Linked DNA regions of Homo sapiens. The protein of the gene in region 2 interacts with the protein of the main gene of each other region in a pairwise test. Each region holds a gene or a part of one and is shown on either strand. Other genes may lie near its edges.

Region 1 (4,201 bases), on a different chromosome or scaffold from region 2:
CCAGGGTTGAAACGTATTTGTTTCCTGCTGGGGATCCCTGTAACCATTTATTTTTAATAGGATCATCGAGATTTCCGAAGGGTTTTCGTTTTGTAAATATTTCAGCTAGGCTCAAATGTCTTCCCGCCCCAGTGCACAAAGGTAAAAGTGCCCCGTTTTTGGTCGGTTTCAGCGGCCGCGCCTTTCCAGCCCCGCCTCGCGTGGCTGCGGCAGCAGACACTTTCAGCAGACGCTCACTGCGATCAACAAGTGCGCGGCCGCGGGCTCTGCGCATTAGCTACTACTGTGTGCCCGCTCTCGGGAGACGCTCCTGGAAGACTCGGAACTCTGTTCCGAGTTTCAGTTGAGAATATTGGAAGCTGGTGTATGGTGGATCACCAGTAGTTAAAAGGAAACCATTTCAGATTATGCTTGCCTCCCCCCAGGTCCCACCCCGCCCCTAGGATGGGATCTCAGTTGTAAAACCGAGTGTTGGTTCCTCCCCAACCTGCAAAAAAGTTTCAGGGCCGCAAAATTATCAGGACTCCATCATGTTGGTTATAAAATTTATTGATCTCATTTAGGAATTAAGAGTAAAAGCTTGAAAACCCTGAAACAAAGTAGCCCCTCCCCACTACCCAAACGAAATCTGAACACATTAGCGCGAAGAAATATCAAACAGATCACGGCAGAAATCACCAACTCAACATGATTGGACAGAAGCTGTCCCGCGGCCAGGGGCGGCGAGGCGGGAGACACACGCACACCTGGCTATAAATTAACATTGGCTTTAGCTGCCGCGCTGCTTGGAGCGGTCAGCGCCCCAAAAAACCACGAGGAAAACAGACGCGACACGACTGGGGGCGTAGGCGTTGCAGTTCTCCAGCTGGCCTCACCCGATACTATGTTTCTCCCATTCACTCCTTGGCTAACTGCAAACTAACAAGACAACATTTTCAAATGTAACAGAATAACCCTGGAACTCAGGAGGAGGAGTGGGGGCTGTTTTTTCTTTGCAAATAACACAGCGATTCCCAGCCTACAAAGGTGAAAGGAGCAGCGGCGTGGGGCAAGAGAGCTCTCTAGAAGTCCCATTTTCGCTGCTCCTGACTTATTTTTGCTTTTGTACAAAACCCGACAGCTACAGCAAAACTTTCAGCCCTCCCCATCATCGGTACAAGGCAACAGTCCCAGGCAAGCAAAGCTAAACAAGGCGTCCCAACTTGGGGGTGCGGGGCGGGAGTGGGGGTGGGGGTGGGGAACAAGGGTGGACGAGCGCAGGCCGGTGCTCAGATGTGGGTCAGCGGCACCGTTCCGTTGACTGCAGTCCCGGCGCCCTGGTAGTGCTGGTGCACGCCGTGCAGGCGACCGCCGGGCAGCGGAGAGGCGGCGTCGGCCGCGTCCCCGCCGGGTGGCAGGTACATGCTGATCATGTCGCGCAGGTCGCCGAGGCACGCGCGCTGAGAGTGCGATGCGATGGCGGGCGGCGGCGAGCTGGGCTCAGACTTCACTACCGAGCCCATGGGGCCCAGGCTCATGGCGGCTGCGGCCGCAGCTGCGGCCGCGGCGGTGGCGGGCTGCTGCCCGTAGGCGGCGGCCGCGGCTGCTGTGGCTGAGGGCGCCATGCCCCCGTAGCCCGAGGCGGCGGCGGCCGCGGCAGCGACGTTCATGTAGCTCTGAGCGCCGGGCGGCATCATTGGGCTGTACTGCAGGCCGGCCATGTCGTAGCGGTGCATCGGCGGCAGCGCGGGCGGCGGCGGCGGGCTGCTCATGCTCGGGGGCTGCGCGTAGCCCAGCTGCTCCTGCACCAGCGAGTACGCGCCGTTGGCCCAGCCGTTCACGTGCGTGTACGTGTCCAGGCGCTGGCCCACGCCCACCGGACTGCTGGCGGCAGCGGCTGCGGCCGCGGCAGCGGCGGCGGCGGCCGCGGCACCGGGAGGCAGGAGGCCGCTGGGCAGGGAGTACTTATCTTTCTTGAGCAGCGTCTTGGTCTTGCGGCGCGGTCGGTACTTGTAGTCCGGATACTCCTTCATGTGCACGGCGCGAAGTCGCTTGGCCTCGTCGATGAATGGTCGCTTCTCGGCGTCGGTCAGCAGTTTCCAGTCGGCGCCCAAGCGCTTGCTGATCTCAGAATTGTGCATCTTGGGGTTCTCCAGGGCCATTTTGCGCCGCTGCCCGCGGGACCATACCATGAAGGCGTTCATGGGCCGTTTCACACGGTCCTGGTCTGTACCCCCGCCACCTCCGCTCGCACCACCGCTGCTGCCGCCGCCCGAGTTCGCGCCGCCGGCTGCGTTCGCACTACTCTTGCCTGCGCCTCCCGGGGCTGCGGGGCCGCCGGTGCCCGCCGCTTGTGTGGGTGTCCCTACGGGGTTCTTGAGTTCAGTCTCCAGAAGGCTGTACATTGCCGGGGCGGGAAGAAGGTGCGCCAGCGTGGCGGGAGGAGAAGGCGCTCCCGGGGCTGGAGCGGCCACGGTGAAAAGGCCCTGGGACTCCGTCGGAGCGGAGCTTGGGGGCCTGTGGGCCAGCGAGTCCGGCGGGAAGGGTAGGCTTATCAAAATGCTCCGCGCCAAATCAGCAGGAACCCGCGGGCTTCTCGCACCTGATGAGTTCTCTCGAACAGGTCGCATTCACAGTCTGCCTGGGCTCTAGCTGGGCCCCTTATATACCTGCTCGGATTCCCCGGGGTTGGGGCTTGGTCCGCCCCTCGCAACCCGGAGGACCCGTGATTGACAGGTTCGCAGTGATGCGCCCTGGCCAATCATTACCGAGCCCCCGTTCGGCCTGGCTGGAAAAAAAAAAGTTCGGGGAGCCCTTTCGTTCACCCCACGCCCCTCTTTGGCCTAGTGACGTGGTAAGAGTTACTTAGGAGGCGGGAGTCCACGAGGCCCACTCAGAGGCCACCAATTAGGGTTTCAAAAAGTTTGAAAGAACGAAACCTGAGGAGGTGACGGGGGGAGGGGGGAGGGGGCACGCAAGCAGATTGGGGGGAGGGGGCAGAGGGGCGCCTTCGGAATTTAGAAAACAACTTTGCAACCCTGTCAAGGCAGACCGGCGCCCCATCCCCCGGCCAGCCCGCAAAGCTTCCCGTTGTCTGCACGGAGGTTTTCTGGCCGCTTCTGCTGCCAGCGCTAGGAACGCAGGGCACCACCAGCTACCCAGGCCGGCTTAGGGACTCCAGGCTCATTGGAAGTGCTCCTGGCTGCGTCTCCAAGAAGCTCTCCCTGGAATTGGCCGCTGGTTGTCCAGATCTTTCTCTAGGAGGGCCAGTGCGTCCAGGACGCAGCGTGGGTCAGGGGCCCGGGCATGGGAGACAGGCTTCAGGACTGCGGGGTGCATTCGGCTGTGAGGCTCTTGGGGGTTTGCAGGAGGGCGGGCAAGCAGTCAGTCGCCCGTCTCCTGAGCCTGTCGGAGGCGCTCGCACAAGGTGGTGTGGAAAGTATGTGTGGGACGTAGGGGGTGAACTGGCCTCCGCTCTCTCGATCCTGGCCCCCGCTTAGCGGCCCCTTTTTGTCTCTGCTCTGTGGCCATTTCGGTTTTTCCAGTCCGATGCCCCTGAGGGGGAGGGTCGGGCCCCTTGGAAAATCCGTTTTCATGGCAACACGGAGCCTCTCAGAGTGAAAGAAAAGTTTCTTGGAGGGGGGAACGTTGGCCGGAGCGGAGCCGAGGCCGTCCTCCGGGCGAACCGCCGGGCCCCCTCCACTGCCCCCGCACCTGCCGGGACCGCTGAGCGCTACTCTGGGCGCGCAGCCTCGCCGCCTCCCCCGGGAGCAGGCTCTGCTAACGGATTCCGTCCGTCTCTTTTATTGTTTTAGAGACTTCCTGAGATTCGGAGCGGGACATTCACTTGCTTGTTGGGTTATCTGCCAAAGACTAGCGGCGCGGGAACTCTGGCTGCGGGGAGAGGAAACCCCGATAATCGCCACTGCCAGCTGAAGCGAGTGGCACAGCGTTTGAAACTCTCGGAGCAGCCCGAGGTAGCGAGTGGGAATGAGAAGCCATCCCGGCAGATTTGGCAGAAACTAAAATAAGGTGTCCATACGGTGTGGGGTCTCGCCCCCCCATCATCCCTAGCCCCGTGGAAAGGTGGGGAACTAAACGGAAAGCATAATCTTAAGTGGGTGGGGGGCGCATGGGGGAATCCCAGGTTTCTAGCGTCTTAGCGTTAATGCAAGACCAGGCGATCCCGGGACTTCTGCATGCTGGGCTCTTCCCCCTTTCT
Region 2 (3,805 bases):
TCTCAGCCCAAAGGCACAAGATAAAGTCAAAGTCTCAGCCTGTCCAATGCACTCTCCCCACCACTGCTCCACACACCAGAATGCTAACCACAAGCTCCCTCCTCCTGCCTCCCCTTGGCACAGGCCATTCACTGCTGCTCACTTGTTTACAAAGCAAACTCTTTCTCCTCCTTCAAGACCCAGCCTCCTGAAGCTGCAGAAGCAGATCCTGTCCGACGCCCAGCTCCCAGCTCCACAGGTAGGTGGGGCCCAAGGGCAAGCACCTTGCCCCAGGAGGACGGAGTTTATGCTGCTGATTGCCAATGTGTCCTGCCTCCTTCCTGGCCCCTACAATGTCACCCTGGGCTCTGAATGGGGACACTATGCCCCTTCCCAGACCAAGTGCTCCATGAGTGGGTGTCCAATGACAGTGTTTGACACTTGCACAAGTCCAAGTGTGAAACAGCTTGACTTTAGCTATGGCACCAGCCCCAGCACACCAGCCATGCTGCTGTCCTGATGGCTGGGCGGGCTGGGCAGTGGCCCTGGTGGCCCATGCTTCTCAACACCAAGCACACCCTGAGGTCCAGCTCTGCCGTTTCTGGGCAGGCACCTCTCCTAGTGGGCTGGCTGTGCCTCGGAGGTAGCACAGCAGTTAGGCTGAGTGTATCAGGGAGTGCTCCTAGCCTCTGATACAGTATTCCCCACAGACGGGGCAGAAATGACCTGTCACAGAAATGATCCATCACAAGGGCTGGAGGCCTGAGTACTCACAGTTAATATGCGCGTGTGTGTGCACGCGTGCATGCATGTGTGTGTGCACGTGCGCATGTACACATAATGCTAGTGCCAGAAACCTGTCTCAACTCCAGGAAGAACGCTACTGGTACTACCCAGGGCCTTAGCTAGTAACCCTGGGCCCCAGCCCAAACCCTGCCCTGGGGACCTGCAGCTCTCGAGCCGGGTGCCTGTTAGGCCCCACTGTTCCTTGGTGGAAGCCAAGGCTGTAGGCAGCACTAGAAGGCCCAGGGAACCTCACTGGGATGGGTGGTGGTGAGGGCCCAGCGCTGGAGGAGAGTATGTTCTCCACATCTCATTTGGCCACCAGCAGATGGGACATGGAGCACAAACACATGAAAGAAGAGGCTGGCCACGCCTGTTTTTCCAATCGCATGTGCACACAGCCCCGGGCCCTGTGGCGTGCTAAGATATATCTAATGCCTCAGGGTGGGGGACTGGGCACCTAGTGAGTATGAGGGCCCCTCTGCCACGGTTCCCAGTGACAGGGGCACTGACCGTCTTGACCAGGGGCCACATCCACAGCATGGGTCCTTTCCTCCTCAACCACAGGGATCTCAGCCAGCCCAGAGGACGGAGTCCCAGGCGGCCTCTCCTGGGGCACTGGGGTGAGTGCTGCTCTGCCAGAGGGGCTGGGGTGAGGCCTGGCGGCCGGTGGGAACTCACCATGCACTTGTTGGGCTTCTCGCCCGAGTGCACTCGCATGTGGATGAGCAGCTTGTAGCGGGCGTTGAAGGGCTTGTAGCGGCGCACGCAGCCAGCCCAGAAGCAGGTGAAGTCCTCGCCCTTGCGCTGGTCGATGTGGCTCTTCTCGATGTGCCGCACCAGCTCCTCCTGCTGCTCATAGGCTGCACAGCAGTCCACCCAGCGGCACGCCTGCCGCCCGGCCACCACCCTGCCTGCCAGGCCCAGCCCCAGGCCTCCAAGGCTTGGGCCAGGCGGCAACTGAGACAGGGGATAGGGGGGCGGCAGGCCCTGCTGGTGAGGCCCAAAGAGCTCTGAAAACTCATCCGCGGGTTCCTGCTTCAGGAAGCTCGCCTTCCGGCAGGCTTCAAGTTGCAAGCTGCCCTCATGGCTGTCCGTCGATGCAGGGCCAGGCCGGGCCCGCTTGGAAGGGCCCCCCAGATCTCCCGTCAGAGGGGGGCTCCGGAGTCCATTTACACAGGTGACCAGAGACGTCTGGGAGGAGCGGATGATGGAGGTGACGTCGGAGGAGGCACAGGGTGAGGAGGAGGCTGGGGAGGTGGGGGGTAGGCCCAAGACGCAGCACCGCTTCAGGCTGCCCTCGGGGAGGTGGGTCTCGGGCTGGAGGCCCAGGCCAGAGCTGGGTTCGCTGCCCAGAAGGTAGCAGGAAGGCGCAGGGGTGGCGAGGCTTCGGCCCGGGAGGTCCAGGTCTGGGTGCAGGCCAGTGGCCAGCGGGCCCCGACAGTGGGCAGACAGGGATGTGCGGGCCTCTGCCATGGCTTGGTAGTCGGGCAAGGACTCCTGTTTGATGTGTTGTGTGGTTGGGAGGCTGCCGTTCACATACGTGGCCTGGGGTCTAGGTGACCTGGAAGACAGTGCCCAGAGAGGTCATGAGAGGCTGGGCTCGCCACAGAGGGAAGGCTCAGGTGGGGGCAGACAGGGAAGCTGAGGATCAAGGGATGGACAAGCCCAGGGCAGGAGGCAGAGGCTGAGGGCTAGAGGCAGAGAAAGAGCACCTACAGACTGGTTGTCTGGAAAACAAGCAGAGTGTAAAGGAAAATGGGGAGAGAGAGGAAGAGAAGGGCTGGGGAGGGAAAGAAGAGGCAGGAGGCCAGGCACAATGGCTCATGCCTATAATCCCAGCACTTTGGGAAGGCAAGGCAAGAGGACTGCTTGAGTCCAGGAGTGTTCACGACCAGCTTGGGCTACATAGTGAGACTCCATCTCTACAAAAAAATTTACAAATTAGCCAGGTGTGGTGGTGTGCACCTGTAGTCCCAGCTACTCGGGAGGCTGAGGTAGGAGGATTGCTTGAGCCCAGGAGGTTGAGGCTGCAGGGAGCCAAGGTCATAACATGCACTCCAGGGTGAATGTGGTGAGAACACCAGGAAGGAGGACCTTGCATCGTTTTACCAAAGCTCAGCACCCCCACCCAGCCCTGGATGCCACGCCATCCTGCTTCCCAGGGGGCTGCCCTGCTCCCTCTCCGTGGCCTTCTAGTGAGTTCTCCAGGAAGAAGGCTGAGGCTGGCATTTTGAGGAACACCCAGGTCCAGGGTATATTAAATTCCACTTACATGTCCTTTAAATCTTTCTTAATTTTTGTAATCTAGCTTAACTTCTACAAATGCTAATTGTATGACACTTCGCCCCAAGCAGCCTGGCCTTTCCACTGTTAATGTCAGTGCATGGGGGAGTCTGAAGTGCAGTCCTGGTGGGGGTGTCTCAGGAGGAACTGAGGAAAAGCTTCTGAGGGGTCCCAGGGTTTCAGGCCCTCACAATGTGACTGCATGAAACTGCGATTTTGGGGAAAAGCCATGGGGCAGGCCAGGCAGGGCAGCCCATGGGAGCACGTGGGTTTGAGATCAGGCTCAGCCACATCCAGCCGTGCAAACGTGGGCAAGGTCCTTTGCCATCCTGGGTCTCTCTCCTCCTCTGGGACATCAGGAGGATCCTCCCCATGAGAGCGAGGGTGGTGTATGTGGGCACAGCTGGGGTTTGCCAGGTGGCTGTCTTCACCACATAGGTGGTACACAGGTGCCCAGAGGGCCTCTCCCACATGTGGAACATTCCCTCCACCACTGCGCAGGAGGCCAGGCTTAAATAACACAAGGGGATTCCTGCACTGAAGCTTCCACCATTCTGAGTGGGGGGACCAGGTAAGGTGCAGAGAGAGACGGAAGGGCCTACCTGTCACCAGAGCACTCTGAAAAGGGGAAAGGTCAGGAAAGTGAGGCAGGGCTGAGAGTTAGGACACCCCCCTGGCTGGCTAGGCAGAACAGGGAGCCTGGTGCTATGCCTGAAGTCTGGCTAGGACACCCCACGCCACCTCATCCCATCTGAAC

Evidence for each region.
Region 1: the proteins of GLIS1 (region 2) and SOX3 come close enough for resonance energy transfer, tested with the Homo sapiens proteins (one large-scale study listed by BioGRID).

What each region holds. Positions count from the first base shown.
Region 1 is NC_000023.11:140,502,452-140,506,652, forward strand, and holds SOX3 (transcription factor SOX-3), read right to left. Parts: upstream 2,619-4,201; 5' UTR 2,610-2,618; coding exon 1,269-2,609; 3' UTR 534-1,268; downstream 1-533. UniProt on the Homo sapiens protein: Transcription factor required during the formation of the hypothalamo-pituitary axis. May function as a switch in neuronal development.
Region 2 is NC_000001.11:53,592,665-53,596,469, forward strand, and holds part of GLIS1 (zinc finger protein GLIS1), read right to left. Parts: intron 2,327-3,805; coding exon 1,444-2,326; intron 1-1,443. UniProt on the Homo sapiens protein: Acts both as a repressor and an activator of transcription. Binds to the consensus sequence 5'-GACCACCCAC-3'. By controlling the expression of genes involved in cell differentiation inhibits the lineage commitment of multipotent cells.